Homo sapiens: one gene and its partners. The protein of the gene in region 2 purifies or fractionates together with the protein of the main gene of each other region. This does not show direct contact. Each region holds a gene or a part of one and is shown on either strand. Other genes may lie near its edges. The genes, in order: TOP3B, FXR1, CAPRIN1 and ORC2.

Region 1 (6,856 bases), on a different chromosome or scaffold from region 2:
AAACCCCGTCTCTACTAAAAATACTAAAAATTAGCTGGGCATGGTGGCAGGCGCCTGTAGTCCCAGCTACTCGGGAGGCTGAGGCAGGAGAATGGTGTGAACCCGGGAAGCGGAGCTTGCAGTGAGCCGAGATTGCGCCACTGCACTCCAGCCTGGGCGACAGAGTGAGACTCCATCTCCAAAAAAAAAAAAAAAAAAAAAAAGCATGGCATTCTCTACAGTAGAGCACCTGGCAGCATTACAAAGGAAAGCATCTGCTTGGTACATACTAACGTGGATCAGATCACTGAAATAAATCATGCTAAGAAAGCTGGGCATGTAACGGTGTGTAGAGAGCACTGCCATCTGTGATCACACATATGTGTGCACACGTGTGCACTTGATTATGAAGAGGCGATATGTCTGGATGGAACGCAAAACAAACAGTCCAAGCAATCACCTGGAGTGGGTGTTAGGGCCTGGAGGTCAGGGCTGGGGGTGCCTCCTCACCACATTCCCTTTTGCACCTTTTACATTTAGCGCCTGGACACAGGTGACTGAGGGACAAGAACTAAGACAAGGGACTTTACAATAAAACCAGAAAAATAAAGGAGGGTTGTAAAGGGCATTGTTCAGAAAGGATGCCAAAGGAACTCCCTCACTAAAGGGGCTTCTGCTGCTCATCATGCTGTGCAGGGGAAGAGGTCCAAGGTCGGCCTTGGGCTGTCAACCTTGTTCCCCACTTAAGAGATCACAGGACTACAGTGAAATCAGTAATCTTGACCAGAAAGCTGTCCCAAATAAAATGACAATTTGCTTTTTTCCTCAAAATAAGTAAGTGGATGTTCCCCTTAAATGTACAACCATCCCACAGTGAAAGAGCCGAGGCCTTGTGGAATGACGACACTGTCTGCAGATGAGCTCTCTGGCCCATGACAGCTCCAGCTGCATCTCCCAAGGCTCTGCTGCGCACCCACCTTTCCTCCCTGTGCGCCAGCAGGCTTCGGCCTAGGCCACTTTTCCCCCTTAGTCTACTTGCTCTGACCCCTGCCCCTCCCCTCCTGAAGACTGCATCTGGCGTCAGCAGTCTGTCTCTCCCACAATTGTCAGGTTCATTGCCATATTTCTGGCACCCAGCATGCACTAAATGCCTGCTGAGGGAATGAATGAACAACCAAGGTGATTATGACTGGCCTCTGCTCTCCGTTCTGGGGAAGTTTTGATTCTACCAAAATCAGAGGCCCAGAAGTGAGGTTTAAAAGAGATTTAGGGACTCCCCTTCTCTCACCCTGGGAAGCCAGAGGCCAAAAGGGAAAACTCGCAGCAGAGGGGCATTGTTCTGTGAGGGTCTGAGTTTCCCATCTCTTCCAAAGTAGGAAATTTTGTCCTAAAATGTTTCCTCAGATTTTCTCATGTCTATGCCACAGAGTAGTCAGCAATTATGTATGACATAATGAGGACACACCAGGGACCAGGCAGTCCTGCCAGCATCCTAGGCAGGGATGCTAATAGGTGCTGCCATTTTATTGGCCTAGACTGGGACTGTGGGGTCAGAGAGACCAGAGCTCCAGTGGCTGGACTTGGTTGTTCTAGAACCCGTGCCCCAAGCCTGATCCTGTCCTGCCTCTGTGAGCACTCTGATGGAACAGCAGCCCAGCTTTGCTTCCTTGTAGCACTCATCACTACACTTGGTACAGCTTCCATCTACTTATTCAGCTCTTGTCTTACAGCTCCTAGAAAGTAAGTAAGCAGCAGGAGAACACGGGTTTTGCTTTGTGCATTCTCACGGTAAATAGACAGTGAGCAAATACTTTGCGAGGCTGAGGCAGGTGGATCACCCGAGGTCAGCAGTTCAAGACCAGCCTGGCCAACATGGTGAAGCCTGGTCTCTACTAAAAATACAAAAATTAGCTGGGCGTGGTGGCGCATGCCTGTAATCCCAGCTACTCAGGAGGCTGAGGCAGGAGAATCACTTGAACCCGGGGGCGGAGGTTGCAGTGAGCTGAGATCGCGCCACTGCACTCCAGCCTGGGTGACAGAGTGAGACTCTGCCTGCAACAAAACAAACAAAAAAAGAAACAAGCAGATGTGGCCTGGGAGTAGGCCTAGCAGTGGTCTGAATAGCATTAAAATTCCTAGGATTTACCACCTCAGTAACTTTACCAAATGCTTCTAGAATCAGGAAAAGAGGGAAACAACCATTTCTTAAGCTCCTCCTTTGTAGTAGGCACACCATAGCTATCAACACTATTCAATCTCGCCAGCAACCCCATAAGGCAGGTGTTGTAATTTTTTAAAACTGTGAGTAAATGGAGGTTCAGAACAAGTCACACTAGTGTCAGGTGACCTTGGCAAAAGAATCCCAGGACTGGCTGGCCATCAAGCCCAAGTTAGGCTGGCCTCTCAGGTCCTGTTTCAAAAGGTGAGAAGATAAAAAGGCAAGACTAGGAACATCTTACCTTTCACTTCTGCGAGAAATTATTGCCCCTGGATTCCAGCTAATTTGTTCACAAAAGTACCCTACTTCATTTACAGATAACAGGTCAGAGAACCTGGGTGCCCTCAAAACCCAGCCAGGGCCTAGGGGGCGGCGAGTGGAAGCTGCCTGGGTGTGTACCGCACCGATCTGGGCCCCGGTGGCTGCACAGCTTCCCTGAGCCTCAGTTTCCCTACCTGTGAGACTGGTACAGCAGATCTCACCCTAAAGAGCTGTGGGAGGGTTCGAAGAAGAAAAGTATTAACCACAGCGCCTGCTCCCTGCAGGCACATGGCGGGCCCATCTCCACCTCCCTGAACCCCCACAGCAAGCCCCGCGGGAGAGTATCACCCCCGCCAGGGAAGAGGCAACAAGAATGCAGAGCCCGGCCCGGGCGCTCTCCCGAGCTCGCGGGTCCTCCGCCGGCCAACGTTCAGGAAACAAGCCAGAAAAATGCGTGCGCTTCCCGCCTTTCTGAGCCGCCGGGCGAGGGTCCCGCAGCCCGCCGCTCACCCACAGCCGCACCGCGGATCCAGCTCCGGTCCTTGTTCCCGGGGCGGCTACCGACAACCCCTATTTCCGGGTCCAGCCGCTTCTGGCGTCCCCGCGTCCGGTGTGCCAGCGTCTGCCCTCCGGCTCCGGCGGGTCGGCGTTCTTAGGTTCCGTGGCTCGCGGATTCCGGGAGCACCCCAGGGAGTGGCACTTGCACGCCGCGGACCGCAGGGATCCCCAAGCCCTGCACCCAGATTCTTCCCCGCCACGGAGAGACAATCATGACAATTATCATTACAATGATTATGAAAACTGGCATGAAAACATTTATGCTGTTAATAATTAAAATAATAAAAATGTACCGATGTGTGTATAGCAGGCTTCTTTTCGATGCTGTAAAAAAATCTGTGGAATGAATGAATGATCTGTGTAAAATATATTTGGAAGATGAATTCTAAAATTAAGTTATTTATTTATTTATTTATTTATTTATTTTGAGACAGAGTTTTACTCTTGTCGCCCAGGCTGGAGTGCAGTGGTGTGATCTCGGCTCACTGAAACCTCCGCCTCCCAGGTTCAAGCAATTCGCCTGCCTCAGCCTCCTAAATAGCTGGGATTACAGGCGTGCGCCACCACGCCCAGCTAATTTATATGTGTATGTATATATATGTGTGTGTATACATATATATATATATTTTTTTTTTTTTTTTTGAGGCGGAGTCTCACTCTGTTGCCCAGGCTGAAGTGCAGTGGCGCAATCTCGGCTCACTGCAACCTCCGCCTCCCGGGTTCAAGCGATGATCTCGCCTCAGCCTCCCAAGTAGCTGGGACTATAGGCGCTTGCCACCACGCGGGCTAATTTTTTGTATTTTTTTAGTAGAGACGGGGCTTCACCGTGTTAGCCAGGATGGTCTCGATCTCCTGACCTCGTGATCCGCCCGCCTTGGCCTCCCAAAGATTTCTATATTTTTAGTAGAGACGGGGGTTTCACCGTGTTAACCAGGCTAGTCTTGAACTCCTGACCTTAGGTGGTCCGCCTCCCTCGGCCTCCCAAAATGCTGGGATTACAGGTGTGACTCTTCACGCTCGGCCAACTAATTTATTTGTTAGAGCATTAGGATTATGGAAGGTTTAAAATACGTTTTATGATCTTATTTTAAATAACATACACACATTGCCCTTGTTCCTTGTAGATTTTCCCAACCTGCTGTTTTTTTTTTTTTTTTTTTAAAGACAGGGTTTCACTCTGTCACCCAGGCTGGAGCGCAGTAGCGAGATCACAGCTCACTGCAGCCTCGATCTCCTGGCGTCAGGCGATGCTCTCACCTCAGCCTCCCCAGTAGCTGGGACCACAGGTGCCAGCCACCAAGCCCAGCCAATTAATTTTTTTTTTTTTGGTAGAGATGGGGTCTAGGGGGAGGGTCTCACTATGTTGCCCAGATTGGTCTCAAACTCCTGGCCTCAAGTGATCCTCCTGCCTCGGCCTCCCAAAGTGCTGGGATTACAGGGGTGAGCCACTGTCCCGGGCCCCAACCTGCCTTTATTGGAATGATCTGTGTAAAGTATATCTGGAAGATGAATTCTAAAATTAAGTTATTTATTTATCTAATTTATTTTGATAAATAATAAGTAGTCTGGATAGAGGCTCTGGAAAAAGAAAAGTTCTATAGGCAAATTAAGGTTTGGAAATGTCACAAATTATGAGTCACGGTGAGACTTCACTTTCAAAGCAGAACTCCTGATTCCAAACCCACACCTTGGTAGGTTCTTCGTCTCCAAAATGGCAACTCCATCTTCCTGGTTGCTCAGGGACAGAGCCTGGGAGCATCCTGGACCACCCACAAATCCTGCCATTACTGTCTTTACAATACAGATGCTCCTCAACTTCAGATGGAACTACATCCACATAAACCCATCTTAAGTTGAAAATATTGTGACTCGAAAGTACGTTTTTGACTTATGGTATTTTCAACTTACTATGGGCTTACCCAGATGTAGCCCCATCATGAGTCAAGAAGCGTGCAGAATGCATACTGGTTTTGTAGTTGAAAAATCCTGTAGGTGGAAATTGTCCTAAATCGAAGACTGTATATCGGAGATCCCCTCAAGTCTCCCTGCCTCCCTGCCACCACCCTGATCCGAGCTCCTCCTCTCCCTCCAGGTCTCCACCTTGCCGCCCTGCAGTGTGTTCTCCACATACCAGCCAGGGCTAAGATTGGCTCTGTTGGGTGCTACCAGTTGGCTGAAAGAGAAACCCAGAGGCCCTCAGCTCATTCCATCAATCCAGTTCCAGAGTTCATTGTATGGAGCCCTAGGAAGGACCTGAGGCCTGGGCCAGCAGGAGGCGCTGAGTGGTCAGCTCTGAAGGCCAGGGCGTCGGGAAGTGTTCTTGGTCAGAGCAGAGAAACTGCAGTTGCCTTGTGCTTTCTTCCCGGAGAGCCCTGCAGCTGACCCTCTGCCAGAGCTTTGGGTCAGGCTTTCTGACTGACCCTTAGGTTGACAAATGACCCAGATTCAGAGGAACCCTTCAACTTGGAGGTGTCTCCCTATTGGGACTCCCCCCAACCCCAGCTCCACTCTGACCAGGGAGATGGTGGCCTAGGATCGACTCAGCGAGAGGGGCCGTTCTTCTTTCCCCATGGCTGGGGAGAAACTGACTCCCCTAAAGAGTAGCAGCAGACTTGCCTGCAGAGGCCTCCTCTAAGGAGTGTGCAGAGGCCATGAGAGAAACTCAGGTGCCCAGACACCGCCATGGGACTTCAGGAAGCAGAGCCCTGGGGTGTTTCCACCATGGTCTTGACTTTTCTCCTCTTCCTTACCCTCCTCACTTACTGGGCAGGTGCCTGGTTATGGTGGATGGGATAACTGAGGGCTCCTGGACCTCTCTTCTCTCTGGTTCGGCATAGGCTGGTCCATGATTTTGATAATACTATTAATAGTTAACATCATGCAGTGCTTACTTACTCTGTTCTAGGCACTGTTCTGTTACTGACACAATCCTCATTACAACACTAGGAATTAGATATTATTATTATCCTTATTTTACACATAAAGAAGCAGGACACATAGGCCAGGCGCGGTGGCTCACGCCTGTGATCCCAGCACTTTGGGAGGCTGAGGCGGGCGGATCACCTGAGGTCGGGAGTTAGAGACCAGCCTGACCAACATGGAGAAACCCCGTCTCTACTAAAACTACAAAAAATTAGGTGGGCATGGTGGCGCACATCTGTAGTTCCAGCTACTCGGGAGGCTGAGGCAGGAGAATCGCTTGAACCCAGGAGGCGGAGGTTGCAGTGAGCCAAGATCATGCCATTGCATTCCAGCCTGGGCAACAAAAGCAAAACTCCATCTCAAAAAAAAAAAAAAAAAAAAAAAAGAACCAGCAGGACACAATGATGGAAGTGGCAGAGCAACCTAGTTCCAGAAGCCACTTTTTTTTTTTTTGACGGGGTCTCACTCTGTTGCCCAAAGTTCTGGGATTTATGGGCATGAGCTACCGTGCACAGCCTTAAAGATTACTTTTTTTTTTTTGAGAGGAGTCTTGCTCTGTCGCCAGGCTGGAGTGCAGTGACACGATCTTGGCTCACTGCAACCTCCACCCCCTGGGTTCAAGCGATCCTCCTGCCTCAGCCTCCCGAGTAGCTGGGACTACAGGCACACACCACCAAGCCCAGCTAATTTTTTAAATTTTTAAATATTTTTTTATTTTTAGTAGAGATGGGTTTCACCATGTTGGCCAGGATGGTCTTGATTTCTTGACCTTGTGATCCACCTGCCTTGGCCTCCCAAAGTGCTGGGATTACAGGCGTGAGCCACCGCGCCTGGCCAAGATTACTTTTTGAAGTTTGAATAAAAGGGCAATGAAACCTGCGCTGAAGAACAGGAAATTGACTGGCTGTGTGCTGAGGC
Region 2 (7,029 bases):
CAAATTTATAGCAACAGAAAATAGAATGATGGTTGTCAGGGGCTGTGGAAAGGGGAAAATGAGCAGCTGTCTAAAGGGTATAGATTTGCAGTTTTACAAGATGAGATGTACTGAAGATTGATCAATAATGTAAACATACTTAATACTAAGTGTACACTTAAAAATGGTTAAGATGCTAAGTTTCATATGTACTTTACCACAGTATAAAGAAAAACCCAAGAAGAAAAAACCACCGAAAACCCACATAAATTTTTTTAAAAAGGCCAAAACTCAAGTTTCTTAAGAAACAAAGGAAACTCATCTAATGTCATAAAATGAATGGGGAAAAGAAACTGTTTTATTCATCTATTTTATTAGTCTAAAACACTTTTCCAGATACAGGCAGATTTGTTCACATATCCCTTGTTCAGAATTTTTAAATTAATGAGAACATTTCCAAATTTGTCCTAAGGATAATAAACATATCTTAATTTCTCTGAGACATCACAGTGTGTGCATGCACATGTGTTCATCTAGATCTAGAAAGTGTGAGTGAGTGGGAAGAACAAGTATCCTACTAGTGTAGCAGGGAAGAACAGGACAAAACAGAGTACCTTAGGATAAGACAGAGATATAATGATAAGCTTAATATTTTAATACTACATGCCACATGATGCCTCACTCCTAGTCCTCCTCTCCTCTCACACAAGAGTTGTTACAGTGAACTAGTTACTGATGAAAGATATCATGACTGACAGATGACAAGGCAGTTAAAAAAATAAAAAGGTTAAATACAAAGTAAAGAACTAGCAATACAGTCTACTGAGTATCCCTAGTTTCTTAGCTCTTTGGCACCTGTCATCTAAGTCCTACCAACAAGTCAACAGGCATTTCGCAAAGGAAAGGCTATGTTTGATAAAAGGTAAAATGGAAAAGCAATTGTTCTACGGACACAACTCCAAACAGTCACGAAACAGAGGTCCTGGGCTGCCTTCGTTTGAAGCAAGGAACTTGAAAAATATAAAACTAAATGGGGGCCAGGTTCGGTGGCTCATGCCTGTAATCCCAGCACTTTGAGAGGCTGAGGCGGGCAATCACTTGAGCCCAGGAGCTCGAGACCAGCCTGGCCAACATGGCAAAACCCCACCTCTACTAAAATACAAAAATTAGCTGGGCTTGGTGGGGCACACCTGCAATCCCAGCTACACGGAGGCTGAGGCAGGAGAACCGCTTGAATCCGGGAGGTGGAGGTTGCAGTAAGCCAAGATTGTGCCACTGCACTCTAGCCTGGGCAACAGAGCCAGAATCTGTCTCCAAAAAACAAACAAAAACTAAATGGGACACAGAAAACTCTTTTGTAAGTAAACCCACTTACTTCTAAATGCTTAGTGGCCTCTTCATTTCTGGACATAAGCATCAACTTCGTACGAATACTTCGCAAATGCATGTCACTTAAGATGTTTACTCTCTTCACAGTTGCTTCACTGGCAGACTATAAACAAACAAGCTAATTACTCAAAACTTTAATCATTCTTCCAAATAGCACAAACACCATCCCATCTTCTATGCAAAGCCTTCCTTGCTTCTCATCTACTACACTTCTTTCACCTAACACTCACTACTCTGAGTAATCACACTTTCCTTTCTGAATTCCTGTATTATTTAGATCTGCTATTCAGAATATGTTTGATTGGGGAAAAATCCGGAATCTCACACATTAAGAATTTTATGATGTTAAGAATGTAATTAACATTTTATAGCTGCAAACAAATTTTTCTCCCACACTATATTAATAAATTCACTATACACTAAGTTGATCTTAGCTTTTCTCTTCTGAAATATGTAATTATAAAATCTGTGCAATATCCATTAATAAGCTACCTTATAATATGGTACTATCTTACCAGTATCATTAGCTGTGTTGTTTCTGGATGGTAAAAAATTCTGCATGCTCCTACTGCTTTCTTAAAATCTTTATGTGCATTTTCATTAGCACACCTAGAGAGAAATCAATTTATGTGTAAGAACTCAATAACAGATTAAAGTCAGAGGAGAGTCACAATACAAAGTCAGTGTTTCATTTTGACAAGCCCCACTAAAACCTTTGTTCATTAAGATGATTTTCCATCAGAAGGTTTGATTGGGCATTAGGGAAAATGTTTTGTAGGACTGAAAAATCTTCTTAATTCACAGAACAATTCAATAGTATATAAAATTACTCACGCCTCTCTCAAATCCTCAGGAACATCCACTGTGCATTTAAAGAAGGTATTTTTTTTGACAGTTTTATTTTGATTGACAGGCCGAAGTCGTTCAAATGTGACTATTTCATTGTAAGTAGCGTCACAAGCAGCATATTCAATGACATAAAACTAAAAGACATCAAAATACTTTAAAAATCCCATCTGAACAAAAATAATGAAGTTTAAATGAAGTTCTAATTACCTTGCTCAGCTTAACCAACGGACCCTCCCCCATGTGGCATAAAATACTAAGCACAGCTTAGCTACATCAATCTGATTTGCCTAAACTAGATTATAGGTTCTTACAAGCATGAACCTTGGCGGTCCTTACATGCTTGAGGTGTACCTCTGGAGAGCAGCTTTGGTGTTTGCCAATACAGAACACAAACAGAAATTAATGCTAATGGAAATGTCTGATCAACTATTTCTCAGGTAGGCTTTTAGAAATAAAACTAACAGTTGAAATAAGATTTACAAAAACCAAGCACTGAGGTACTTCCTTAGAAACTAGTCACAAAGCAAGTGTGAAGAGTACTTACTTCTCCTTTCATCATCCGAACTTTAGCCAACCACCACCCACATGGCTCTTGGTCATTTGCTCTTGAATATACCTGAGAAGAAAAAAAAATGCCTATATCCATTCATCCCAAAAGATTTCAATGCTGTAAATGACTTTTTATTAATACCCAATCCCAATAAACTTAAGAATGAAAAATGCTATTTTATTTAAATTGGCATATTAAATGCAATTTAAAGAAAGTGATATGTAACTTAAATTTACTACTTAAAAATAAAACTACTTTTTTGGGCAATTTAGCTTCTTAGAAATTAATTCCATATTCATGAGGTTTACTAAACATAAGTATTATTTTAAAGAAATGCTCTTACAAAGGAGTTTTAAATAATGTAAAACACAGGTCTTCCTGTTTCTGTCAACATTGTTAATATTAAAAATTGTTCTCAGAAAGTGATTAACGTAATTTTTAAATTCCATCGAGGATATGACATTTAGATCCCGTGCTAAAGAACCTAAATCAAATGTACTAAAATTGTTTAACTGAACAAAAAAATTACACACATTCAGTCCATCTAGCAGAATACATTAAGTATCTTACAAAATTCCTATCCAGGCCGGACGCAGTGGCTCACACCTGTAATCCCAGCACTTTGGGAGGCCAAGGTGGGTGGATAACCTGAGGTCAGGAGTTCGAGACAAGGCTGACCAACACGGTAAACCCTGTCTCTACTAAAATATAAAAATTAGCCGGGCATGGTGGCAGGTGCCTGTAATCTCATCTACTCGGAGGGCTGAGGCAGGAGAATCATGTCCAGAGGGTGGAGGATGCAGTGAGCAGAGATCACACCATTGCACTCCAGCCTAGGCACCTAGAGCAAAACTCCATCTCAAAAAAAACAAAATAAAAACTATCCACAAAAAAACAAGTCATATTCTTTATATCTATAAATATCAGTTTTATTAACGTAATAGGTCACAGAAGCTTTCACTTGGGATTAGAGTTATTTCTTATGACACAGCAGAGCTTCTTTAACGTATTATATTTTCAGTATAGAGAAAGGTAGAAAAGGGGGGCTGAGAAGAAACTAAAAACCAATAAAAACCAAGATTGACTGTCCTTGCAGAGATCATCAGGGAAACCTATCAGTGGCTGTTAACAGCCATCTGGGAGATAAACACAAACAACTAAAAACAAAGACTTTTAGAAAGCCTGAAGCTTCTATCAGGATGATTTGAGAGTAATCTTGGAAGTGGTAGGAATACTGGAACTGGAAATGAATAAACCAAAACCTACTAATGAACTTTATCGTATACCATGATTAGAAAAAAGCTATGAGAAAAAGCAGGAAGTCCAATATACCAATCAGGGTCCGTTAAACTCAATTTTAGCTTTTCCATTTCTTTTATAAACAGATCTAACTATTCAAAGGGATCAATATCTCATGACTTATATTCTTCCTTACGACATATTCCAAAAAACAAGAAAGTTTACTTCTCTAAGACTAGAACAGAACTCACCCTTATTCTGTAATTATTATATGTATCCACTGGGCCCTTTTATAAATGTAAGGTAGAATCTAGTGATCTTATTTTTCCTATATCTTGAAACACTTTACAATTTCATCAACATTCATCAGTTATTCTCAGCTATGCTTTAAATAAAGACTAAAATGGAACAGAGGAATGATGGCATCACCTAGAGGATACAACAGTGAAATAAACTGTTAATGTTCATACAGTTTCCTTACTGCATAGCCTGAGGTATCACATCTCTTTCAAAACAGTTCAAAAAGACCAAAGACACCATCCTTGTAGTCTGCTTTTAGCTACCGTTGACCAGTTGATAATTATGAATTTTTTTCACTCATAATTGCGAAGAGAAGAAAAATTTACAGAGGAAGGCCTTTCTAATTATTAGAGATATCAGACAACAGATGCAAAGAGTACTGATAAATGTGAAATTATCTTACAAAGCAAAACCTCAGACTATGAAGTCTGAGATGGTGACATCTTAGATGAATGTTCTCAATGTATTTCTCAAACGATGTATTTCTCAAACGATGTATTTCTCAAACATTGTTCTCAAACAATGTATTTCTAAGGAGAAGAGGGAAAGATGATGTGTATTCTCATCCAGTTAATGACTCAACTGAGACTCCATCATGCAAAATCCTCCAACAAGAACCCAGATCATCCTGGTTTGCTAAAAGGGTATATGACAGTATTCTTCCATCTTTTAAGATGTTTGTGGTCAGGCACGGTGGCTTACACCTATAATCCCAAAACTTTGGGGAGCCAAAGCAGGTCGACTGCTTGAGAGCTCAGGAGTTCAAGACCACCCTGGACAACATGATGAAACCCCATCTCTATCAAAAATACAAAAGAAATTAGCCAGGTGTCGTAGCGTGCACCTGTGGTGCCACCTACATGGAAGGCTAGGGTGGAAGGATTGCTGGAGCCTGGGAAGTTGAGACTGCAGTGAGCCAAGATTGTACCACTACACTCAACCCTGGGTGACAGAACGAGACCCTGTCCAGGGGGAAAAAAAAGGTAAAATAAAAATTGAAGATAAAATTTTAAGAAATGTTTGTGTGCCAAAATGTACTTCGTAAGTGGAAATGTCAAAAGCAGATGTGTATACAAAGGTAACTCGAAAAAGAAAGATAATGAAATGCAAAAATATTCAATAGATTAGTCAATCCAACTGACTAAATGTGCTAAAATTACAGCACAGAGATGGCTATCCCTTCTTCAATAGAATGAGATGTCATTAAAAGTTCCAAAGTATTCAAGGACTGCATTCTGATGATCCAACTGTAAGAATAACCAGAATAAGCTAGAATTTATTAGAGATATATTTTAAATCTGCTATCAATATTTATAAGATTGGTATGTTCTAGGTTCATGTATAACAGTGAGCAGTTAGTTACATTTAGAGAACTGCATTCATTGTAGATACATATATCATCAAAACCTGGAAAATATGAAAAAGTTAGATTTGCTATGTTTAAACCCTCACTAAAATGTCTAATAAGGCCATGCGTGGTGGGGCTCACGCCCGTAATCCGAGTACTCTGGGAGGCTGAGGTGGGCAGATCACTTTGGCTCCAGAGTTCGAGACCAGCCTGGACAACATGGTGAAACACCATCACTATGCAAAATACAAAAGTTAGCCAGGCATGGTGGCATGTGCCTGTAATCTCAGCTACTTGGGGGCCTGGGGTAGGGTGGAAGGATCTCTTGAGCCCAGGAAGTCAAGGCTGCAGTGAGTTGTGTTTGCTTCACTATACTCCAGCATGGAGTCAATAATGGCCTTTAAAAAAGTCTAATAATGGGGGGCACAGTGGCTCATGCCTGTAATCCCAGCACTTTTGGAGGCTGAGGCAGGAGGACTGCTTGAGCCCAGGAGTTTGAGACCAACCTGGACAACACAGGAAGATTTCGTCTCTATAAAAAAAATTTTTTTTTAATTAGCCAGGTGTGGTTGGTGCATGCCTCTAGTCCCAGCTACTTGGGAGGCTGAGGAAGGAGGATCACTTGAGACTGGGAGGTCAAGGCTGCAGTGAGCCATGATCATGCCACTATACTCTAAACTGGGTGACAGAGCGAGACCCTGTCTCAAAAAAAAAAAAGGTCCAATAACGACCTTACTACCCTTTCATTCTTTCTGCTACAAAATTATTTGGTAAACGATCAGTGATGACTGTTTTCCCAAGTATACTGAGGGTTACAAAAAGAATATTCTAGGCCGGGCGCGGTGGCTCACGCCTGTAATCCCAGCACTTTGGGAGGCCGAGGTGGGTGGATCACCTGAGGTCAGGAGTTCGAGACCAGCCTCAACATGGAGAAACCCTGTCTCTACTAAAAATACAAAATTAGCCAGGCGTGGTGGTGCATGCCTGTAATCCCAGCTACTCGGGAGGCTGAGGTAGGAGAATTGCTTGAACCTGGGAGGCGGAGGCTGCGGTGAGCTGAGATCGCGCCATTGCCCTCCAGCCTAGGCAACAAGAGCGAAACTGCATCTCAAAAAAAAAAAGAATATCCTAACAACCAAAAGAAGGTGCCCATTCGAGTAACTATCTCAGAGAGGCAGTTCGAATATCTCTTGTTAATGTGGGTAAATCAAGCCTCATTTGCTGAAAATGTTATGTCTTAAAACTACCTAACCCCCTTATTCTATTTTCACCAAAGCATAATCATTCATGAATCTGGCTTTCTAAATAAACCATCTCAACTGCCTGGAGGCTTTTCTCACTGAACGATGAAATGCTGAACTCCATTTTAAACTTA
Region 3 (6,409 bases), on a different chromosome or scaffold from region 2:
GACCTTTTACTAGTTCAAATTATTTTTTGATTTGTAAAATATATCACACAGTTTTTGGGAAGGATGTATCTGCATTAGCCTCCTATGTGCAATTTAAACAATGTATATTTTGGTACAATTTGTGTATTTGGTATAATTTGTTATTTAAATAACAGATCATGGAATTTTTGTTCATTTGGTTATGTCAAATTAATGTCTACCACTATCTCCTGGAGGATAAGTATTTTCCACATTACCAAAACTTACGGGGATTGTTTATTATATTTGTACAGATGTGTGTTTACATGCATAGATGGGTTAAAAGTTTATCTTCTGAGGGGCAGTTAGTACTTACAGAAATTTATAAACAGATTGGATCAAGATAGGAAATTGGAGATTAATTTGATTAACTAGCCTGGCTTATAATTTCTAGTTCTTCCCGTCTTCATTAATAAAAAAGTAAAAATTCCTTGTGAAGATAAGAAAATTATTTCTTTTCTTGTCCTAAATTTTAGGAGGATATGATGGTTACCGCCCTTCATTCTCTAACACTCCAAACAGTGGTTATACACAGTCTCAGTTCAGTGCTCCCCGGGATTACTCTGGCTATCAACGGGTAGGTAAAGTAGTTCTAAAGTGTAAACCTGAACTAAATATACCAATGAAAGTGACTTAGTGTTGTTGCTTAATGAACCTAAGTAACTAATTTGGCGTTAACTTTGTGGTGTCCAAGACACTCTGTTGAAACAAAAGCTTTTAGCACTCAACATCAGTACTCCTTTAGTAAAGCCTGTTAAAGACAGTGATTTCCAAGAGCAGAGAAATATATTTCACTGAATGTTCTTTGAGAATAGTAGAAGTACAACAATTACAGAACAAGGTGTAGCTGTGATAAACTGATACTGAAGTGTCTAAAAGATTAAGGAAGAATTCTGTATTGAGTGTTAGACTGAAAGAATAGATGGGTAAGCATTTTTTAAAAAGTACCTTTTCAATACTAACTAGCTTGTCTTTTAGGATGGATATCAGCAGAATTTCAAGCGAGGCTCTGGGCAGAGTGGACCACGGGGAGCCCCACGAGGTAATATTTTGTGGTGGTGATCCTAGCTCCTAAGTGGAGCTTCTGTTCTGGCCTTGGAAGAGCTGTTAATAGTCTGCATGTTAGGAATACATTTATCCTTTCCAGACTTGTTGCTAGGGATTAAATGAAATGCTCTGTTTCTAAAACTTAATCTTGGACCCAAATTTTAATTTTTGAATGATTTAATTTTCCCTGTTACTATATAAACTGTCTTGAAAACTAGAACATATTCTCTTCTCAGAAAAAGTGTTTTTCCAACTGAAAATTATTTTTCAGGTCCTAAAACCTGCTAAATGTTTTTAGGAAGTACTTACTGAAACATTTTTGTAAGACATTTTTGGAATGAGATTGAACATTTATATAAATTTATTATTCCTCTTTCATTTTTTTGAAACATGCCTATTATATTTTAGGGCCAGACACCCTTTAATGGCCGGATAAGCCATAGTTAACATTTAGAGAACCATTTAGAAGTGATAGAACTAATGGAATTTGCAATGCCTTTTGGACCTCTATTAGTGATATAAATATCAAGTTATTTCTGACTTTTAAACAAAACTCCCAAATTCCTAACTTATTGAGCTATACTTAAAAAAAATTACAGGTTTAGAGAGTTTTTTGTTTTTCTTTTACTGTTGGAAAACTACTTCCCATTTTGGCAGGAAGTTAACCTATTTAACAATTAGAGCTAGCATTTCATGTAGTCTGAAATTCTAAATGGTTCTCTGATTTGAGGGAGGTTAAACATCAAACAGGTTTCCTCTATTGGCCATAACATGTATAAAATGTGTGTTAAGGAGGAATTACAACGTACTTTGATTTGAATACTAGTAGAAACTGGCCAGGAAAAAGGTACATTTTTCTAAAAATTAATGGATCACTTGGGAATTACTGACTTGACTAGAAGTATCAAAGGATGTTTGCATGTGAATGTGGGTTATGTTCTTTCCCACCTTGTAGCATATTCGATGAAAGTTGAGTTAACTGATAGCTAAAAATCTGTTTTAACAGCATGTAAAAAGTTATTTTATCTGTTAAAAGTCATTATACAGTTTTGAATGTTATGTAGTTTCTTTTTAACAGTTTAGGTAATAAGGTCTGTTTTCATTCTGGTGCTTTTATTAATTTTGATAGTATGATGTTACTTACTACTGAAATGTAAGCTAGAGTGTACACTAGAATGTAAGCTCCATGAGAGCAGGTACCTTGTCTGTCTTCTCTGCTGTATCTATTCCCAACGCTTGATGATGGTGCCTGGCACATAGTAGGCACTCAATAAATATTTGTTGAATGAATGAATGAATGAGTACTGGTGGAATACTCCATTAGCTTTACTCTTCTTTTAGCTAAGAGAACATGAGCAAATTTGCGCATGACAACTTCCAGGACAGGGGAAACTTGAACACTGAAGAATTGACCTCTTAAGCCTAATAATGTGGTGACAGGCTGCCCACATGCTTCTTGACTTCAGATGAAAATCTGCTTGAAGGCAAAACAAATAATATTTGAAAGAAAAATCAAATGCCATTTTTGTCTTCTAGGTCGTGGAGGGCCCCCAAGACCCAACAGAGGGATGCCGCAAATGAACACTCAGCAAGTGAATTAATCTGATTCACAGGATTATGTTTAATCGCCAAAAACACACTGGCCAGTGTACCATAATATGTTACCAGAAGAGTTATTATCTATTTGTTCTCCCTTTCAGGAAACTTATTGTAAAGGGACTGTTTTCATCCCATAAAGACAGGACTACAATTGTCAGCTTTCTATTACCTGGATATGGAAGGAAACTATTTTTACTCTGCATGTTCTGTCCTAAGCGTCATCTTGAGCCTTGCACATGATACTCAGATTCCTCACCCTTGCTTAGGAGTAAAACAATATACTTTACAGGGTGATAATAATCTCCATAGTTATTTGAAGTGGCTTGAAAAAGGCAAGATTGACTTTTATGACATTGGATAAAATCTACAAATCAGCCCTCGAGTTATTCAATGATAACTGACAAACTAAATTATTTCCCTAGAAAGGAAGATGAAAGGAGTGGAGTGTGGTTTGGCAGAACAACTGCATTTCACAGCTTTTCCAGTTAAATTGGAGCACTGAACGTTCAGATGCATACCAAATTATGCATGGGTCCTAATCACACATATAAGGCTGGCTACCAGCTTTGACACAGCACTGTTCATCTGGCCAAACAACTGTGGTTAAAAACACATGTAAAATGCTTTTTAACAGCTGATACTGTATAAGACAAAGCCAAGATGCAAAATTAGGCTTTGATTGGCACTTTTTGAAAAATATGCAACAAATATGGGATGTAATCCGGATGGCCGCTTCTGTACTTAATGTGAAATATTTAGATACCTTTTTGAACACTTAACAGTTTCTTTGAGACAATGACTTTTGTAAGGATTGGTACTATCTATCATTCCTTATGACATGTACATTGTCTGTCACTAATCCTTGGATTTTGCTGTATTGTCACCTAAATTGGTACAGGTACTGATGAAAATCTCTAGTGGATAATCATAACACTCTCGGTCACATGTTTTTCCTTCAGCTTGAAAGCTTTTTTTTAAAAGGAAAAGATACCAAATGCCTGCTGCTACCACCCTTTTCAATTGCTATCTTTTGAAAGGCACCAGTATGTGTTTTAGATTGATTTCCCTGTTTCAGGGAAATCACGGACAGTAGTTTCAGTTCTGATGGTATAAGCAAAACAAATAAAACGTTTATAAAAGTTGTATCTTGAAACACTGGTGTTCAACAGCTAGCAGCTTATGTGATTCACCCCATGCCACGTTAGTGTCACAAATTTTATGGTTTATCTCCAGCAACATTTCTCTAGTACTTGCACTTATTATCTTTTGTCTAATTTAACCTTAACTGAATTCTCCGTTTCTCCTGGAGGCATTTATATTCAGTGATAATTCCTTCCCTTAGATGCATAGGGAGAGTCTCTAAATTTGATGGAAATGGACACTTGAGTAGTGACTTAGCCTTATGTACTCTGTTGGAATTTGTGCTAGCAGTTTGAGCACTAGTTCTGTGTGCCTAGGAAGTTAATGCTGCTTATTGTCTCATTCTGACTTCATGGAGAATTAATCCCACCTTTAAGCAAAGGCTACTAAGTTAATGGTATTTTCTGTGCAGAAATTAAATTTTATTTTCAGCATTTAGCCCAGGAATTCTTCCAGTAGGTGCTCAGCTATTTAAAAACAAAACTATTCTCAAACATTCATCATTAGACAACTGGAGTTTTTGCTGGTTTTGTAACCTACCAAAATGGATAGGCTGTTGAACATTCCACATTCAAAAGTTTTGTAGGGTGGTGGGAAATGGGGGATCTTCAATGTTTATTTTAAAATAAAATAAAATAAGTTCTTGACTTTTCTCATGTGTGGTTGTGGTACATCATATTGGAAGGGTTAACCTGTTACTTTGGCAAATGAGTATTTTTTTGCTAGCACCTCCCCTTGCGTGCTTTAAATGACATCTGCCTGGGATGTACCACAACCATATGTTACCTGTATCTTAGGGGAATGGATAAAATATTTGTGGTTTACTGGGTAATCCCTAGATGATGTATGCTTGCAGTCCTATATAAAACTAAATTTGCTATCTGTGTAGAAAATAATTTCATGACATTTACAATCAGGACTGAAGTAAGTTCTTCACACAGTGACCTCTGAATCAGTTTCAGAGAAGGGATGGGGGAGAAAATGCCTTCTAGGTTTTGAACTTCTATGCATTAGTGCAGATGTTGTGAATGTGTAAAGGTGTTCATAGTTTGACTGTTTCTATGTATGTTTTTTCAAAGAATTGTTCCTTTTTTTGAACTATAATTTTTCTTTTTTTGGTTATTTTACCATCACAGTTTAAATGTATATCTTTTATGTCTCTACTCAGACCATATTTTTAAAGGGGTGCCTCATTATGGGGCAGAGAACTTTTCAATAAGTCTCATTAAGATCTGAATCTTGGTTCTAAGCATTCTGTATAATATGTGATTGCTTGTCCTAGCTGCAGAAGGCCTTTTGTTTGGTCAAATGCATATTTTAGCAGAGTTTCAAGGAAATGATTGTCACACATGTCACTGTAGCCTCTTGGTGTAGCAAGCTCACATACAAAATACTTTTGTATATGCATAATATAAATCATCTCATGTGGATATGAAACTTCTTTTTTAAAACTTAAAAAGGTAGAATGTTATTGATTACCTTGATTAGGGCAGTTTTATTTCCAGATCCTAATAATTCCTAAAAAATATGGAAAAGTTTTTTTTCAATCATTGTACCTTGATATTAAAACAAATATCCTTTAAGTATTTCTAATCAGTTAGCTTCTACAGTTCTTTTGTCTCCTTTTATATGCAGCTCTTACGTGGGAGACTTTTCCACTTAAAGGAGACATAGAATGTGTGCTTATTCTCAGAAGGTTCATTAACTGAGGTGATGAGTTAACAACTAGTTGAGCAGTCAGCTTCCTAAGTGTTTTAGGACATTTGTTCATTATATTTTCCGTCATATAACTAGAGGAAGTGGAATGCAGATAAGTGCCGAATTCAAACCCTTCATTTTATGTTTAAGCTCCTGAATCTGCATTCCACTTGGGTTGTTTTTAAGCATTCTAAATTTTAGTTGATTATAAGTTAGATTTCACAGAATCAGTATTGCCCTTGATCTTGTCCTTTTTATGGAGTTAACGGGGAGGAAGACCCCTCAGGAAAACGAAAGTAAATTGTTAAGGCTCATCTTCATACCTTTTTCCATTTTGAATCCTACAAAAATACTGCAAAAGACTAGTGAATGTTTAAAATTACACTAGATTAAATAATATGAAAGTCTGGTTTTCTCACTGTCCTTGAACGCAGTCTGCTTAAGTTGTTAAAAACCATCCAGCAAAAGCTGTAGGTGAAGAAGTGCTACTGGTGTGAAGAGAGGAAAAGGTTTATAAAAGCAATCTGATAGCCTCATCTAATACACTTCTCAGCTTCTGCTACTAATATCCTACTTTTAACAAGCTGTTCTGAAGCTTAATCCAGTTACATAAGCAGTACGGCTGTTTTGAGTAGAGGCAGTGGAAGATCAGCAGTTTGTTCCTGATCATCTAGCAAAGGCATTTGTGTATTAATGCTTATTTGGAAATACCAATTTTAAGTACTGTGTTTAATAGGGAGACACACTGTATTAAGCAACTAAACTAAGGCTTTATTCAGCAAATTAGGGTATCCTTTGCCCAGCATCATGCCAAGCACTAGGCATTTAGTGGTGACAAAAATTACTGTGGTTTCTGCTTTCATTGAACTGTCTAATCAAAGACTGATGACACCAAAGTGTAGCAGAT
Region 4 (7,029 bases), on a different chromosome or scaffold from region 2:
TTTACTCATTTGTAAGTTGGGGACATTATATATATAAAGAGAGAGATGCAAAATACCTAAGTCAGAGAATCTGAGGATTTAATGAGCTGGTGTACATAAATGTGCCTAATACAGTGCCTCACAAACAGCCCCTTAAAAAACCTGTTGCTTTATTTTATACAAATATTACATAAATGGGTTAAACTTTTTCTCTAATACACCCAGTTTCCCCATAATAGGAAACAGTATTATGACTAGAAAAATGGCCCAAGAGGACATGTTTTACAAGCAATGGTCATAAGTTATAGATGAAGTATTTATTATCTTTATTTTTTATTTTTATTTTTAAAATTTTTCCTTCATATCACAGCCAAGTCCACAATTTTTTGTTGTCGTTGTTGTTTAAAAAAATTTTTTTGACCTGGTGTGGTGGCTCACTCCTGTAATCCCAGCAGTTTGGGAGGTAGAGGTGGGTAGATCGCTTGAGCCCAAAGGTTTGAGACAAGCCTAGGCAACATGGTGAAACCTCATTTCTACAAAAAATACAAAAGTTAGCTGGACGTGGTGGCAGAAGCTAGTAGTCCCAGCTGTATGGGAGGCTGAGGTGGGCAGATCACCTGAGCCCAGGAGGTTGGAGCTGTGGTGAGCCAAGATCATACCACTGCTCTAGGTGACAGAGCCCAGACCCTGTCTCAAAAAAAAAGAAAAAAAAATTAGAGACAGAGTCTCACTCTGTTGCCCAATCCGAGTAGACTATAGGCACATGCCACTACGCCCAGCTAATTTTTTTTTTTTTTGGTAGAGGCAGGCCTTACTGTTGCCAGGCTTGTCTTCAACTCCTGGCCTCAAGGGATCCCCCTGCCTCAGCCTCCCAAAGCACTGAGATTATAGGCATGAGCCACTGCACCCAGCCCACTATTTATTATCTTTATACACAAAGTATGAACCTCATAGAGTTGTGCAGATTAAATGAGAATACATATGGAGTACTCAAAACTGTCTAGCACAATGTAAGTGCTCAAATTTTGTCCTCCTCTCTTCCCACTCCATCCAGATGTTCTCAGTATCTAGGGCTTCCTAGCCAAATCAGTAATGGTCTTTTTGTCCTTTACTATACCATTACAACAGCTTTGGCTTTGTAAGGTCTACATGTATCTATTCATCATGCTTGTTAAAACTTGTGGAACTTGTTTTTGCCCCATTGCTTTCATTTTTCTGCTAGCTGACCCTGACTGAGTTATTTTTCCAATTACAGGTGACTGTATCTGAATTTTGCAGCTGCAGAATGTGTAGTACCTTAAAAGGTAAATGAAAACTGAAAGAAGTCATTTAAGCATGTTGCTTGTCAAAATAAAACTTGGTAACATTGAATTAGTTTTCTTCCTGCAGTTAATGAACTCAGAAGAGATAAATGACTGTGGTGGTGGCCCATGCCTGTAAATCCCAGAGGTTTGGGAGGGTGAGGTGGGAAAATTGCTTAATTCCAGGAGCTCAGAACCAGCCTGGGCAACATAGTGAGGCTCCATCTCTACAAAAAAAGGAAAACCTGCCAAGCATGGTGGCATGTGCCTGTAATCCCAACTACTTCAGAGGTTGAGATGGGAGGATTGCTTGAGCCCAGGTGGTTGAGGCTGCAGCAACACAGTGAGACCCTGTCTCAATAAAAAAAGAAAGAAAAGAGAGACACAGTCAATAGTTTCTCCTGCCAAAAGAAAAGGTGAAAACAAGATTGTAAGAAAGAGAGAAGAGAAAAGAAATCACCAAGAACACTGAATCTTAGTTTACATTTTTTGGGTAAACTGATTAGCTGGCAGCAGTTAAAATCATCATTAGTTATTTTCAGGCCAGTAGCATAGTAAGTTCTGAAAGTTCATTTTGTGAGACTAGCCAGAGTTGATCAAACTTTTGCTTGCCAAACTCTGGAGGTTTGTTCAGTGAGGAACTGAGTGTAAAGTGTTCGAAAGATTTGTGTTTACTGTTTAGTTACCAAGATATCTAGAAAGCCATATTCATATTTGTAAAGTTGTTTGGTAAGCATTCCATAAAAGTAAAGGGAGGTGCTTGAGGGTTTTTTGATCCAGGCTTAGGACACAAGTGAAGTTTAACAGACTCCCCACAATTGACTGTAGCTTTCTAGTGAACAGATAATAAAATCCATTAAAGCATTATTCTTTGTTTGGCTGTCACTTTTCTAAACACTCATGTATTAACCACCCCCTTTCTGTTAATGTGCTTATCTGGATTGGTTAGAGCTTTCATTAAAACTTAAAATTGTTTTTCTGAGAATATTTTATTTTATTTTTCTGAGTATATTTTAGCTACCTTGATTGGATTTAGCTCTTCTCAAATCTCAGAATCTCTTTGCCTCCCCAATTTTTTAGATAAAGAATTGAGTTACCTACAGTTGAATATGTAGTAATACAGTAATGCATAATGTATTTTTTATACTTAAAAAGACTTTAAAAATATTAGATAAAGACATGTATTCATTATGTGAATGTTTAATTTGGTGGTTGATATGAATTCTTCATCACTTTTGAGTAACTTACTGTTTTTGTTTAGGTTGGCAACAATGAGTAAACCAGAATTAAAGGAAGACAAGATGCTGGAGGTTCACTTTGTGGGAGATGATGATGTTCTTAATCACATTCTAGATAGAGAAGGAGGTATTAAGTGATTGTACAATTTGAAGAGATGCTTATTATAATGTTTATGGATTATTTCACTTTTAAAACTTTTAACATTTTCTTTTGAAAATATAGCGCAAAGGATTGATCTGGTTAGTAAAACTAAATAAAAACTGCTTTAATTTTTAGTTTAATTCTTTCAAACTTTAATTGAAAATGTTCAGTAAAGCCTAATATAAAACAAAATGCCCAGGAGTGGTAGTCACTAATAACTACCCATTGTAATTTAAAATATGTGGTTATTTTGAACCCTAAAAATATATACTTTCAAGATTGTGTGTGTTTTTTTTTTTAACTATATAAACTGTGGAAGAGTGGTCAGAGTGGTCAGTTTTAATCAAAGAGAAAGCTTTTTTCCCAGCTTTTAAGTAATGACAATATAAATATTATAATTTCTTATTTAAATGTAATGTTTAGAAAGAATTTATACCTGTCATGCTCTATTTCTTTGGATGTTCTTATAGGAGCTAAATTGAAGAAGGAGCGAGCGCAGCTTTTGGTCAACCCCAAAAAAATAATAAAGAAGCCAGAATATGATTTGGAGGAAGATGACCAGGAGGTCTTAAAAGATCAGAACTATGTGGAAATTATGGGAAGAGATGTTCAAGGTATTTGAGGGGGTGAAATATACACTCGTTTCTGCTAGTAGCAGAAATTGCTTTATAGGATACACAAAAGTAGTCTGGTAGGTTAAACAGTGGTGTTCTATATGATCATGTTTCTCATCTAAAAAGCATTTGCTTCAATTTCTCCATAGTTCTTTTTTTTAACAACCAGTCCTGCACATAGTTTTCAGTAAGAAGGAATCTATAGACCAACCACTCTAAAGTTATTTTATTTTTAAAATTTTTCCAGGATACATGTGTACAATGTGCAGGCTTGTTACATAGGTATACATGTGCCATGGTGGTTTGCTGCACCTTTCAACCCATCATCTAGGTTTTAAGCCCCACATGCATTAGCTGTCTGTCCTTATGCTCTCCCTCCCTCCACCCACCCGCAGGCTGTGGCATATGTTGTTCCCCTCCCTGTGTCCATGTGTTCTCATTTTTCAACTCCCACCTATGAGTGAGAATATGCAGTGTGTGGTTTTCTGTTCCTGTGTTAGTTTGCTGAGGATGATGACTTCTAGCTTCATACATGTCCCTGCAAAGGACATGATCTCATTCCTTTTATGGCTGCATAGTACTCCTAAAGTTATTTTCAAGATTATTTATTTATTTATTTATTTATTTTAGAGACAGGGTCTTGCTCAGTCACCCAGATTGGGATGCCATGGCACAATCATAGCTCATTGTAGCCTCCAACTTCTGGGTTCAGGAGATCCTCCCAACTTAGCCACCTGAGTAGCTAGTACTATTTTTAAGGTATTTATTTATGGCCAGACATGGTGGCTCACGCCTGTGATCCCAGTACATTGGGAGACTGAGGCAGGAGGACTGCTTGAGCCCAGGAGTTTGTAACCATCCTAGGCAACATAGTAAGATCCCGTTTCTACAAAAAAAAAAAGTTTTTAATTAGCTGGAAGCTGGGTGTGTGATGGCTCATGCCTGTAATCTCAGCATATTGGGAGACCAAAGCAGATTGATCGCTTGAGTCCAGGAGTTTGAGACTAGCCTGGCATGGTGGCACACACCTGTGGTCCCAGCTATGAGTGAGGCTGAGGTGGGAGGATCACTTGAGCCTGGGAGGTTGAGGCAGCAGTGAGCCGTGATCATACCACTACACTCCAGCCTGGGCAACAGAGTGAGACCCTGTCTCAAAAAAAAAATAAAACTAGCTGAGCATGGTGGCGTGTGCCTGTAGTCCTAGTTACTTGGGAGGCTAACGCAGAGGATTGCTTGAGCCCAGGAGGTTGAGGCTACAGTGAGCTGTGATTGCATCACTATACTCAGCCTGGGTGACAAAGCGAGACCCTAGGTCAAAACAGAACAAAAAAAAGATATTTATATTTTTAACTTATTTAAAATACCTTTCTAAAGCAAGTTACTTTATTCTTACCTTGATCTTTACAGAACTAGGAGGAGCATTTCAAGAAGTAGTGTTCTAACCCAGGGATGCTGGTATTATGTGTGTGGTTTTAATTTTTACATCTAAGCCAGATTCCTGCAAGATTATTCTTAACATAAAACATTTTTTTAGGTTCGAATTATATTTTAGTTAGGTTTTTCCTGGGTACAAGGAACACAGATCCCCACAACCTAGCTTAAAAAAATAATGACAAAGGAAAGAAATCAATATTGTTGGGTACTAGGAGAGTTGGAACTGGGACAGTGTTAAAAACTGAGGAACTGTGCTTTCATGAGTCTCCAGGTCTCCCTGTGTCATCTCTGTGCATCTGTTCTGATTTCTCTATGCCACATATTTTCTTCATGTACATGTGTTTTATTCTCACATACTTATAAATGTCCATCAAGTTCCCAGTGTTAAGTGATTTGGTTTTTCAGTTCTCCCATTCTAGATTCTCAAGAGTCAATTTAGCTCAATTCATTTTTAAAATCTGGACATAGAAATAGCATATAATTGGAATATCCACAGATGAATCACAGTTGAGTTATCTGTGCCTATTACTTATTATATTAATGAACATAATTACATAGTTCATTAACTATGGGGGTAGAGTCATATACTCCATGTATAGAGTTATACAAAAAATGACCACTGCTCCTCAATAGATTTAGTGGGCTGGGTAGGGTCTCCTATGTGTCCACAGCTAGACAGTTGACATTTTTTGAGCATATTCTAAATAAAACTTGGTGTTCTTGACTCCCTATTATGCCAGGCCTAAGAAGAGATTGATAACAGTATTCCACAAAGGAAACTTTTATCATAAAAATTGTCTCTTAAAAAAGTAGTATGTTTGTTGTAGAAATTCAGTGCTTCCAACCTTTCTCACATAACAGCACTCACAGCAAATGATATTTGGAGGCACAATGGAATAAATAGAAGAGGATGCTGCAGACCAAGGACAAATACCCCAGGGCCCTAACCCTACCCCTGCTACTGGCCTTGATTGGCATCCTCAAAGGCCTGAGAGAATCAGTACTCAGCACATATGAAACCCATACCATTTATTTATTTATTTATTTATTTATTTATTTATTCATTCATTCATTCATTCATTCCTCACACTGGGGAACTTTGCCTTATTTTTTGGCATCATGCCCTATGTTTTTCAACCTTTTTAAAATTATTGACCCCTAATTAGCCTTTTTAGACATTTTCTCCTAATCACTTTTTCCCACCCTAAAAATTTCAGTACTACATATATGCTGTATATCTGTTTATGTACTGTGACGCTTTGGAGGGCCACAGACTATTATATTAATAATGTCAAAGTCTTTTTTCCACACTCCCTCCTGTGCCAAGATCCAGTTTTACCCAATTGGGAGATGTATTGTACCTGTCAAGAATGCCTGCTTTAGAGAACGTGGAACCGTTAACATTTCAGTGTGTATCTTCTGTCTGTTCATACATGCATGGGCACACATAAGCTTGCACCATTACGTTTATAAATAGACTTTTTGCAATTAATAATGTATCATATATACATTACTCTGTCATTAGACATTCTTCTACAATAAGAGTTTTGACATGTATTGCCAAATATCCTCCTAAAGTTTATACAGATTACACTATTTAATCATAGTTACATTTTCCTAAAGACTTAGTTTTGGCCAGGTGCAGTGGCTCATGCCTGTAATCTCAGCACTTTGGGAGGCCAAGGCGGGTGGATCGCCTGAGGACGGGAATTCAAGACCAGCCTGGCCAACATGGCGAAACCGTGTCTCTACTAAAAATACAAAAAATTAGCTGGGCGTGGTGGTGGGTGCCTGTAATCTCAGCTACTCGGGAGGCTGAGGCAGGAAAATCGCTTGAACCCGGGAGATGGAGGTTGCAATGAGCCAAGGTCACACCATTGCACTTCAGCCTGGGCAACAAGAGTGAAAATCCATCTCAAAAAAAAAAAAAGAAAAAGAAAGAAAGAAATCCCAAATCCCATCTCTACAAAAAACATACAAAAATTAGCTGGGCGTGGTGGCATGCACCTGTAGTCCTAGCTGCTCAGAAGGCTGAAGTGGGAGGATCACTGGAGCCCAGGAGGTTGAGGCTGCAGTGAGCCACAATCACACCATTGCACACTAGCATGGGTGACAGAGCAAGAATTTATCTCATACACACACAAAAAAGCTTAGCATCTGAACCATTTTTAAAGTGTATGGGTTCAGTGGCATTAGGTACATTCACACCATTTGTAACCAATCTCCCAAACTTTTCTCATTGTACAAAACTGAAATTTATTCATCTGTAGATGGACACTTGGGTTGCTTCAACCTTTTGGGTATTGCGAATGATGCTGCTA

What was found.
Region 1: the proteins of FXR1 (region 2) and TOP3B purify together in Homo sapiens (affinity purification with mass spectrometry, with the first as the bait; 2 studies listed by BioGRID). This does not show direct contact.
Region 3: the proteins of FXR1 (region 2) and CAPRIN1 purify together in Homo sapiens (affinity purification with mass spectrometry, with the first as the bait; 2 studies listed by BioGRID). This does not show direct contact.
Region 4: the proteins of FXR1 (region 2) and ORC2 purify together in Homo sapiens (affinity purification with mass spectrometry; 4 studies listed by BioGRID and IntAct, with this or other methods). This does not show direct contact.

The regions. Positions count from the first base shown.
Region 1 is NC_000022.11:21,979,762-21,986,617, forward strand, and holds the start of TOP3B (DNA topoisomerase 3-beta-1), read right to left. Parts: upstream 3,027-6,856; 5' UTR 2,969-3,026; exon of another isoform or gene 2,653-2,968; intron 1-2,652. UniProt on the Homo sapiens protein: Releases the supercoiling and torsional tension of DNA introduced during the DNA replication and transcription by transiently cleaving and rejoining one strand of the DNA duplex.
Region 2 is NC_000003.12:180,943,669-180,950,697, reverse strand, and holds part of FXR1 (RNA-binding protein FXR1), read right to left. Parts: intron 2,834-7,029; coding exon 2,762-2,833; intron 2,352-2,761; coding exon 2,203-2,351; intron 1,978-2,202; coding exon 1,884-1,977; intron 1,472-1,883; coding exon 1,355-1,471; intron 1-1,354. UniProt on the Homo sapiens protein: mRNA-binding protein that acts as a regulator of mRNAs translation and/or stability, and which is required for various processes, such as neurogenesis, muscle development and spermatogenesis.
Region 3 is NC_000011.10:34,096,702-34,103,110, forward strand, and holds the end of CAPRIN1 (caprin-1), read left to right. Parts: intron 1-494; coding exon 495-595; intron 596-996; coding exon 997-1,060; coding exon of another isoform or gene 1,061-1,080; exon of another isoform or gene 1,081-2,359; intron 2,360-2,601; coding exon 2,602-2,666; 3' UTR 2,667-5,909; downstream 5,910-6,409. UniProt on the Homo sapiens protein: mRNA-binding protein that acts as a regulator of mRNAs transport, translation and/or stability, and which is involved in neurogenesis, synaptic plasticity in neurons and cell proliferation and migration in multiple cell types.
Region 4 is NC_000002.12:200,953,646-200,960,674, reverse strand, and holds part of ORC2 (origin recognition complex subunit 2), read left to right. Parts: intron 1-1,234; 5' UTR 1,235-1,283; intron 1,284-2,541; 5' UTR 2,542-2,551; coding exon 2,552-2,645; intron 2,646-3,130; coding exon 3,131-3,274; intron 3,275-7,029. UniProt on the Homo sapiens protein: Component of the origin recognition complex (ORC) that binds origins of replication. DNA-binding is ATP-dependent. The specific DNA sequences that define origins of replication have not been identified yet.